Linked DNA regions of Homo sapiens: region 2 is linked to region 1. The links come from fine-mapping of genetic effects on gene expression. A gene starts in region 1. The other region holds a variant in brackets. All regions are shown on one strand. Distances are between the middles of the regions.

Region 1 (5,000 bases):
CCTGTGCCCTGGGTATACCCCCTTTACAGTTCCCGATGGATCTGGCATTTGTGGAGATTTGTCACCCCAGGACTGTGAGCCTTGTAAGCAAACAGCTTCCTGAGAAGCAGAGGAACTTCCTCTGGGAGCCACAAAACCTTGCTGCCAGGCAAATGACAGCTCGGGTATTTGTTTTAATTTAGGCTCTTGTCAAGAGGAAAGTTGATGGCTAACAGCCCAAACATGACTGCACAGCACCTCCCCGGGAAGCCTCCTGCTACAGCTCTCCACTAAGCTGTTCCGAAGAGGGAGGCAGGGACTCCTCACACTGCGGCCACATCAGTGCCCCCTCCCACCCACCATCCAGGCCACCCCAGGAGCCGCCCAGAGGCCAGGGCAGCAGCAGGAGGGTAGACAGCTCAGGTGCCAATCTGCCTGAATCAGGGCTGCCCAACAGAACCCCCTAAGAGGCCTTGGCCTAATTCCCTTTTCTGGCATTCCTCTGGTCAGGAATTTTCAAGGTGGCCTCAGGCAATTTTGCTTTTTTGCTCCAGGCGTGGGAGGAAGAGGGTGGGGTATGGAAGACTTGGAAATGATCAGCTCAGAGGAGTCTTCTGCTGCAGAGAAAGCTAGAGACAGGGTTCCATACGATTCCAGGCTTCGGGAAATAGGGAAACAAGAACTGGGTTTTGCAAAGAGCCAGAAACACTCAGGAACATAAGCACGCGTGAATCTGAGGCATTGTTATGACGGCTGTTTGCAAGCACACAGCTAAGAGAGGGCCACTAATCCTGCCTCCGGGTCAGGAGCTGATCTGCATCTGCGCTCCGAACAGATGTGTGCCCCCATTCATGCAGACGCACGTGCACGCACATGCCACACAGCCATGGGCCCTGACCTTCACCCAACGACGCTGGCCTCTGCAGGGGAAGGAGCAGATGGAGCGGCGGCACCTGGCACAGGACCTATGCCCAGGGGATCCGGCTTTGCCCCTTTGATGTTGAGAAACCAAAGCAGAATGAACCATCACAAGGACAGCTCCTGGGGGGAGGAGAGGAAGGAACATGGATGGAGGAGGAGGCGGGTGGAGAAGAAGATACAGGGAATGACCTGGACCCAAGGGGATGCTGAGGTCAGAGGTTGAATGTTGGGTACCACACAGCCTCCAGAGTAAGGCTTTGGGGCTCAAGGCATCACCCTTCTCTACTCCCCCCACCCCCCCCATATGACTTATCAAGGAACTCTAGCTGGGATGACCCTTACAAATGCCCTTGTTGGCTCACGCCTGTAATCCCAGCACTTTGGGAGGCTGAGGCAGGTGGATCACCTGAGGTCAGGAGTTTGAGACCAGCCTGGCCTCATGGTGAAACCCCATCTCTACTAAAAATACAAAAAATTAGCCGAGAGTGGTGGTGGGTACCTGTAATCCCAGCTACTCAGGAGGCTGAGGCGGGAGAATCACTTGAACCCGGGAGGCAGAGGTTGCAATGAGCGGAGATTGCGCCACTGCACTCCAGCCTGGGCGACAGAGCCGAGACTCCGTCTCAAAAAAAAAAAAAAAGAAAGAAAACGCTCCTGTTCCATGGCATCCAGTGCCTAGAATCAGGCTGAACCAGGCTCCACGTGGCCCCACGTGCCTCCCCCAACTCCTGCCTGGGAGATGTGCTGAGAGAGTGGGAGGGTCCCACTCACGTGGGCCAGGAAGGGCGAAATCCACTATGTAAGCCCAGGAGGACCCTCTTCCTAATCCCTGAGAGCTTTCGGGAAAGGTGTCTCAGGGAAGGGTGGGGAGAAGGGGCGGTGCCTTTCTAGCAACGGAGCAGGAGCAAGGTGCGGTGGTGGGGGCGGGGGGCGGCTCTCGGTTCGCCCCAAGCCCCCCCACACCATTACCCGTGATCAGTTACGCATCCCCCGGGGCCATGCAAGAGCAATCACATGATCCAGAGAGATTTGGGAGCGAGGGGGTGGAGAACTCGAGAAGGTTTGTTTTTTTTTTCTTCTGAGGGTGGTGGTGATGATGAGGGTGGGGGTGGTGATGAGGCTGGCAGGAAAGATTGCTGAGCCCGGGATTTTCAGCTCCCGCATCCAAACGGCCCCCGCGGATATCTGCACCCCCCGTCTCCCCTCCCACCCGATCCCACCCCAGCACCGAACCCCTGGGCCCTGAACCACACATGACCCGGTGCCCCTGGGGTGGCAAACTCGGGTGCCAACGACTGCTCCCAAAACGGCCTTTCGGCTTCAGCCTGGACAGAGAAGCTGCCGGTCCAGGGGCGGGGGCAGCACCCAGAAGGGCCTCCCTCCCCTGAGGCTCGCGGAGGCCGGGTTCACAACAGGTGGGAGGGGGGACGCAGCTCTCGGCTCGGTCCGCCCACGGTCCCCGCCCCCGGACCGCAGGAATCCTCTCTGGGGACCCCCCGCCCGCGCCCCCCAGACCAGCCCGGCTCCTGGGTCCCGACCCCGATCCCGATTCCCAACCCGACCCCGATCCGGACCCCGATCTCGCCCCCGCCCGCGCTCCCCGGACCAGCCCGGTGCCTGGGTCCCGATCCCGATCTTGGGGTCCCGATCCCGATCCTGGGGTCCCGATCTCCATCCTGGGGTCCCGATCCCGATCCTGGGGTCCCGCCCCCGCCCGGCACACGTACTGCTGTAGAGGGTGTCGATCCAGGACAGGCGCGGCAGGCCCCGGTGGCTGAGCGGCTCCATCCCGCGGCGGCGGCTCGGTCAGATCCGAAACCCGACCCTCATCGCGCAACAAAGGAGGGAGAGCGGGCGGGAGCCGGGGGAGGCCGAAGTTGCGAGCGCGGAGGGGCGAGGAGGCCGGGAACCAGGTCCCCGGGAGGAGCGCGGGGCGGCCGGGGCAGGGGCGAGGGCGGGGCGGGAGCCCCCAAAACCCTCCCGAACCCTCCCGGCCCCAGCGGCCGCGCCGAGCCCAGCTGCGGATCCCGGAACCGATGAGCAACTTCGCGGGGGGCGGGGCGGGGGTGGGGCTTCGTGGTGGGGCGGGGCTTTGGTGCGGGGGCGGGGCTTTGGTGCGGGGGCGGGGCGGGGAGGGACCAATCGGCTCGAGGCTCCGCCCTCCGCAGGACGCCCCCGGCCGGGCTAAGGGGGCAGCGGGGCTCCGGCGCTGGGCGAGGAGGGGCCGCGGGGGTCTCGGGGGGTCTCCAGGCGGCGGCGCAGACCCAGGTCCCCCTCGTCCCCCCCGCGCCGGGCTCAGCAGGATCCTGGCGATCCGCAAACCAGGTGCCGTGGGGGGCCCGGGAGCCCACAGGGGTGACATCACCTCCCGCCCGGGATCTCCAAGCGCGGCTTCGCGGGCGGGAGCGGCGGCCGGGCCCCTCCCCAGCCAGACCCGCTGCGGGACCCACGGGGTGAACGTCCTGCGCGCCGCGGGACGCGCCTCTCTCCTCCCGAACCTTCCCCCGCTCGTCCCTTTCCACACCCCTGACCTCTGAGCGCGGCCGTTCCCGCCACACATGGAGGGGGGCGGGTGGAGACCCGGGAGGACCGAAGTCACGGGGGCTGTGGGGCCAGGACAGTCCCACATGTGCCCCTCCTGGGCGGAGGACAAACTGGAGCCAGGAGAAGCCCCAAGGGCTCCACGCGTTCCCCTCCAGGACCCCTCCTGGGGACCCCGAGCCGCGGCCTGGAAAGCCCATCGTGTTTGCATCATCACCTAGAAATGGTGGGAAGTCGGGTCAAGAGGCCTGAGAAATGACCGTTTAGAGACGAAATTCCCTCTAAGGAAGACCCCCTCGCCCAAGGGCAGTGAAGAGATTGGGGGCCCCATGCCTGTCTCCTGTGGGCTGATTCTGTGGGAGCCATGGCAGCTTCCCCACAGACCTCTTTGGGCCAAGCGACCCTGGAGCAGGGAAGGACAGGAGGGGAGTCAGGCCAGGGGGGTCCAGGGCAGTGGGGCTGAAGCCCCTTCCTGAACCCAGGGAAAGGGAAGCAGTGGGGCCCACCCAGGGGGCCCGGTACCCCAGATAGTGACATTTCAGATACCGGAGCTGTCTCCACCCCACCCCATCCCCAGGCAGCTTAAGGGGAAAACTTCTGGGAGCCCAGCCCTACAGAGGCCTACCAGGAAGGTTAAGTCAGCCTGGCCTTTGCCGGGGGCAGTGTGGTCGGCACCCGCAGAACGCTGGAGGGGTGTGGGGGTCGGTCCTCATCACTCCAAACAGACACACACACATCTAGTTCTTAAGGGGAGAAGCAGCTCCTCCCCCAGGATGCTGAGAGGAAGCCCCATAAGCTGCTTGGGCAGAGGCCTCTGCAGCTGCCCCAGGGGAGATGGGGGTCACCCACTCATCACAGGCTGGGGAGCCCCTGGGAGACGCACAGGATGATGCTCTGGGTGGGGAAGCCTCTACAGGTGGCTGCAGCAGAAGTGGTTTTCAATATTATTAGCCCGTCCCTGCGTCCCCAGGGCTCCCTCCGCCCCAATCCTCCTGGCTCAGGCACCAGCGCTGTCTCTTGCCGCCCCTCCCTGCAGCTGTCACCCTCCCACCGTCCCTGACTAGCACACAGGATTGGGAGGGCCAAGCAGGCACCTGGAGCTTGGCAGGGAGGGGGCGTGCATCTCCAATGAGACGCTCCAGAAATAGAGCTTCGGCATGGGAAGGGAACGAGCAGGCTCTCGGAGGACCGCGAGGCCGGAGGAGCCATGAGGGGCCAAGGGCATCTCTTCTTCCCACCTGGAACTCTCGGAAGACAGCCCAGGGGAAAGGTGGAAACGGGCGTGAGCTGCCGCCACCAGGAGCCACCAGCCCAGGAGGCAGCAGCACCGTCCCCTCCTCAAAACAACAACAAGCAAGAACGCTCGGGCCCTCTCCCCACACTGTGGGGTTTTCCTGATGGCCACATCCGGCGCTGACTGTGAGGGAGCTATGGATGTATGCTTCTGCGTGAGTCACATACATTTGCGTACATTTTACATTTTTATCTACAAAGGCTTGAACAAGCTATTTTCAGCATCCTCCAAGCTAAAATGTGGCAGTTGCTTTCCTTCGCGTTGC
Region 2 (5,000 bases), 81 kb before region 1:
CTGCTGCAGGGACAAGGGCAGGCCCCGGCTCTCCATTTCACCACTCGAGTTCTCGGAGAGGACCCGTGAGTGACTTCAACCCTGGCTCCCATACCAGCTGCTTCTCAGGAAGACGGGCCTGGGCCGGTTCTCACTTGCCAGTGGGACTTCACATAGCCGTTTGTCAGCTCTGTCCCCCAGCGACCGGCCTTTCGAAATAAGGGAAAGAAATGTACCCACTTCCTCCACCTCCTGCCCCAGAAGGCCTGGCATGCTTGCTGCCATGCCACCCGAGTCACTCGTCACTGGAGCCCAGGGAGGAAGGCCTCATTCACCTGTTTTATAGATAAAGAGCCTGCGATGCAGCGTGGCCAGGAGTCCACCCCAGGAGGGCCAGTCGTGGCCAGCGGTGGGAGGGGCTCTGGGGAGTGGCCTCACCCTGTGGCCCCAGCGTAGCAAGACACAGTTCCCAAGCTCAGTTCCCAGTGTCAAGGAGATCCAGAATTTCAATGCAGTTGGCTTCATCTTTTTTCCTTCACCCCCTACTTCGGCCCAGGCTCCCAGGCTTTTCCTGTAATCAGAGCCCACCAGGAAGCAGGAGGGCCCCAGAAGATGACCCCCACAAGCACCCCAGAGGCCAGGACGGAGGCTTCTGTGTGGAGGCTCGTCTGCCCCGTGTGTGCACATGGTTTTAGGTACACACACCCAGCCCTTTGCATATCAGGAAGTGTTCAGATGAAAGCAAACAGGCTGGGGCAGAGCGGTGGGAATGGGGTCAGGAGTGGGAAAGCGAGCATGGAGGGAACGAATTTCTTCTCCTTCAAGCTGGCACCTTTGCGAGGCCACCCCGAAGAGCAGAAGGTTTAGCTTCCTCCTAGCTGAGGGGTGGGGAGGGTGCAGGGGTTCCCAGCTCAGGGAGGAGAGGAGGAAGGGTGTGATTCTTTCACTCTGAGGTTTTCTTCTGAGGCTGTGGCTGTGGAGGGTCCTACTCCTCTTCCTGAGCCCTCCTACCACAGACCTGGCCTCCCAGCGAGTTCTTCCTTTGCTCCCTCTGGTCTCTGCTCAAGAAAGAGCCAAGCAGGGGCCCAGGAGGAGAGAGCTGGGGGAAGGTGGGGAACCCGCCCCGGGAGGAGAGAGCTGGGGAAGGGGGGGAACCTGCCCCGGGAGGAGAGAGCTGGGGAAGGGGGGAACCTGCCCCGGGTGGAGAGAGCTGGGGGAAGTGGGGGAACCTGCCCCGGGAGGAGAGAGCTGGGGAAGGGGGGAAACCTGCCCCAGGAGAGAGCTGGGGAATGGGGGAACCTGCCCCAGGAGGAGACAGCTGGGGAAGGGGGGAAACCTGCCCCGGGAGAGAGCTGGGGAAGGGGGGAACCTGCCCGGGGAGGAGAGAGCCGGGGAAGGGGGGAACCTGCCCCGGGAGGAGACAGCTGGGGAAGGGGGGAACCTGCGCCAGGCATATCAGGAAGGGGGCCCCTGCCCCACAGATTCTGCCTTTGGGGCATGAGCTGTTAGAAAGGCAGAGCAGGGAGGGGCTCTTGGTCTTGGCCCAGAGGAAGAGGCTCGTGGGTGGCAGGTGGGATCTAAGGGCTCCGTGTCTGATGGGGACAGGCGCCACTCCCTCCTTCAGGGAACGGGTGTGTTGTGGCAGAAACCACGAAGCCCTAACCTGTCTCCTCTCCCAGCAATAGAGAAATTAACAGTGTCAACGAACACTCAGGCTGTGTTCTAAGAGCTTTATGTGCCGGACACAGTGGCTCACATCTGTAATCCCAGCACTTTGGGAGGCCGAGGCGGGCGGATCACTTGAGGTCAGGAGTTCAAGACCAGCCTGGCCAACATGGTGAAATCTCATCTCTACTAAAAATACAAAAATTAGCTGGGCGTGGTGGTGGGTGCCTGTAATCTCAGCTACTTGGGAAGCTGACACAGGAGAATGGCTTGAACCCAGGAGGCGGAGGTTATAATGAGCCGAGATTGTGCCACTGCACTCCAGCCTGGGCAACAGAGCAAGACTCCGTCTCAAAAAAAAAAAAAAAAAAAGAACTCTGTGTATAAATTCCTTTAATCCTCACAACGACCCCATGAAAAGCATACTATTTGTATACCCAGTTTGCAGATGGAAAAACTGAGGCACGATAGCTCATTCACCTGCTGAAAGCCTGGAGCCAGTACGGCCAGGCAGTCTAGATCCTCTGTCTGAACTCCTTTCAAATACACACCCTGTTAGTAATGACAACTATGTTCCTTTTTGGACAGCAATTCACGGTTTGGAAGACGTGTTTCACGAATGTCTGACGGGTTGTCTCTTTGCCTGTCCTCCTTTCTTCCACTAACAGTTGAGTGTCTTAAGTAACTCAACGCTGTATGAGGTCCCGAAAGCATCTCCCGATCTTCTCAACCCCATGGAAAGAGAGAGAAAGAATGGCATCCCTCTCATCTTCAGATCCAGAAATGGAGGCTCAAGGAATTTATGTAGGGCTTGCCCAAAGCCAGCAGTTTTCTTTTCTTTTTTTTTTTTTTTGTGATGGAGTCTCACTGTGTCGCCCAGGCTGGAGTGCAGTGGCGCAATCTCTGCTCACTGCAAGCTCCGCCTCCCAGGTTGACGCCATTCTCCTGCCTCAGCCTCCCGAGTGGCTGGGACTACAGGTGCTCGCCACCACGCCCGGCTAATTTTTTTTGTACTTTTTTAGTAGAGACGGGGTTTCACCGTGTTGGCCAAGGATGGTCTGGATCTCCTGACCTTGTGATCCGCCCACCTCAGCCTCCCAAAGTGCTGGGATTACAGGCTTGAGACACGGCGCCCGGCCAAAGCCAGCAGTTTTCAAACCCACAACAGGTGTAAGACACCATGGGCCCGGCAATTACATATATATACAGGCACACAGACAGACAACAAACCG[A/G]AAGTTCCCTCACTTATCTTTCCCGTGTATGATGCATGCTGACATTTTTTCATTGGTTTAAAAATGCTGGTTCAACCCACTGTACTGGTTTCACAACCCACTGTACTGATTTCACAACCCAAAGCACTGATGGGCTGAGAGGCACAGTTTGAGAAACAGTGCAATACGCCTGCTCTTAATGGCAGGGCCAAGTCTTGCCCTAGCTCTGGCCCCAGACCAGGACCCTCAGCTACCTGCCACACTGCCCCTCACTTGGAAAACAGCTCCGTACACACAGATAAACTCCTGGAGAGATGGGACGTACTCAGCCTGGCGTGTGGCAAAACAGCTGCACATTCAGAGTTTCACTCTTGTTGCCCCGGCTGGAGTGCAATGGTGCAAACTCGGCTCACTGCAACCTCCACCTCCCGGGTTCAAGCGATTCTCCTGCCTCAGCCTCCTGAGTAGCTGGGATTACAGGGGCCCGCCACCACGCCCAGCTAATTTTTTGTATTTTTAGTAGAGATGGGGCTTCACCATGTTGGCCAGGCTGGTCTCGAACTCCTGACCTCAGGTGATCCACCCACCTCGGCCTCCCAAAGTGCTGGGATTACAGGTGTCAGCCACTGCACCCAGCCTTTTTTTTTGAGGAATTTCACTTCCGTCGTCCAGTCTGGAGTACAGTGGCGCACTCTCAGCTCACTACGACCTTCGCCCCCAGATTCAAGCAATTCTCATGCCTCAGCCTCCTGAGTAACTGGGATTACAGGTATGCACCACCACGCCTGGCTTTTTTTTGCATTTCTAGCAGAGACAAGGTTTCACCACATTGGCCAGGCTGGTCTCGAACTCCTGTCCTCAAGTGATCTGCCCACCTGGGGCTCCCAAAGTGCTGGGATTACAGGCACTGAGCCACGGCGCCCGGCCTGCACCTGCACATTTACACAGTCATTCCTGGGTAACATAAATGTCAAGTCCCCTGGGACACTGACAGCATCTCAGGGTTGACGTGTGACAACACCTCACGTCATGGCAAGTACTTAAATGTGCATCTTAGAATTCTTGTTAAGAATGAGCTTCCACAGATCCACACTTCTGCGTCTCCCTTTTCTGACAATTACCTTATGTCTCAGGCTGCAAAATACCCAAAAGAAAGATTGACACGCCACGATCACTCTGCATAACATCCAGACACATCTAAGGAGCACTTTCTTCCAAGGCAAAACCACCTCACATCTGTGTAGTACTTTTATCTTCCGAAAACATTTTCATATTCCCCTCCCAATCAGACTCTCACAACGATGCCTCCATCTGGGAGGGGAACTGAGGCATGTTACCGAGGGCTGAGCTTGGCCTGATGCCTCAGAGCTGTGCCGCTTCTCAAAAGAACACAGACAGGCCGGGCGCAGTGGCTCATGCCTGTAATCCCAGCACTTTGGGAGGCCAAGGCGGGCAGATCACCTGAGGTCAGGAGTTGGAAACCAGCCTGGCCAACATGATAAAATCCTGTCTCTACTAAATACAAAAATTAGCCAGGACTGGTGGCGTGCACGTGCAATTCCAGCCACTCGGGAGGCTGAGGCAGGAGAATCACTTGAACCCGGGAGGCAGAGGTTGCAGTGAGCCGAGATCGCACCACTGCACTCCAGCCTGGGTGACAAGAGCAAAGCTCCGTCTTAAAAAAAAAAAAAAAAAAAAAAAGAACACAGCCTCCCACCTCATATTTCCTGACACGGGGCCTCAGGATGGCACTAACGGTTCCCTCACCCAGGGAGGTAGAAGGACTTGGACACAAGACGGCAGAGACTTCTTAACTGGATTGATTGGGAATGACTGCCCAGAGCACAGCGTGGAGAAGGCGCTCGGCCCCCGCCCAGGCAGGCAGAGCACCATGATGGGTTCACGATGCCCTATGCCAGGGTCGTGGGTGACAGGTGTGTTTGCCATCTCTAAGCCGGGTGTGCTTCTCCTGCCTTTTGAGAGCTGGAGCTGAGAGGCACAGGCCCTTTCTGGCAATGACCCGGGCTGCCCGATGCCCAGCCAGAAGCAGACCAGCTGCAGACTCTGTCCACAGGGAGGGACGGGTACGGTCCCCTTTCCTCTCCAACTCCAAAAGCAGCTTCAGAGCATGACATCACCCAACAC

The links. PIP is the estimated chance that this variant, and not a neighbour inherited with it, causes the effect.
Region 2: its variant is fine-mapped to the expression of ABR in whole blood (TOPMed, PIP 0.98).

What each region holds. Positions count from the first base shown.
Region 1 is chr17:1,177,040-1,182,039 of GRCh38, forward strand. ABR (ABR activator of RhoGEF and GTPase) reads right to left here and starts at 2,942. Exons shown (of 23, transcript NM_021962.5): 1 at 2,628-2,942. The coding sequence starts at 2,688. ABR-AS1 (ABR antisense RNA 1) reads left to right here and starts at 4,588. Exons shown (of 3, transcript NR_187271.1): 1 at 4,588-4,889. RefSeq lists an enhancer at 2,983-3,749.
Region 2 is chr17:1,095,594-1,100,593 of GRCh38, forward strand. The region is part of intron 3 of ABR (ABR activator of RhoGEF and GTPase); the gene reads right to left. Among named protein-coding and RNA genes, the nearest start is that of MIR3183, 76 kb to the left of the region's middle. The variant A/G (reference allele first, on the strand shown) is at 2,877.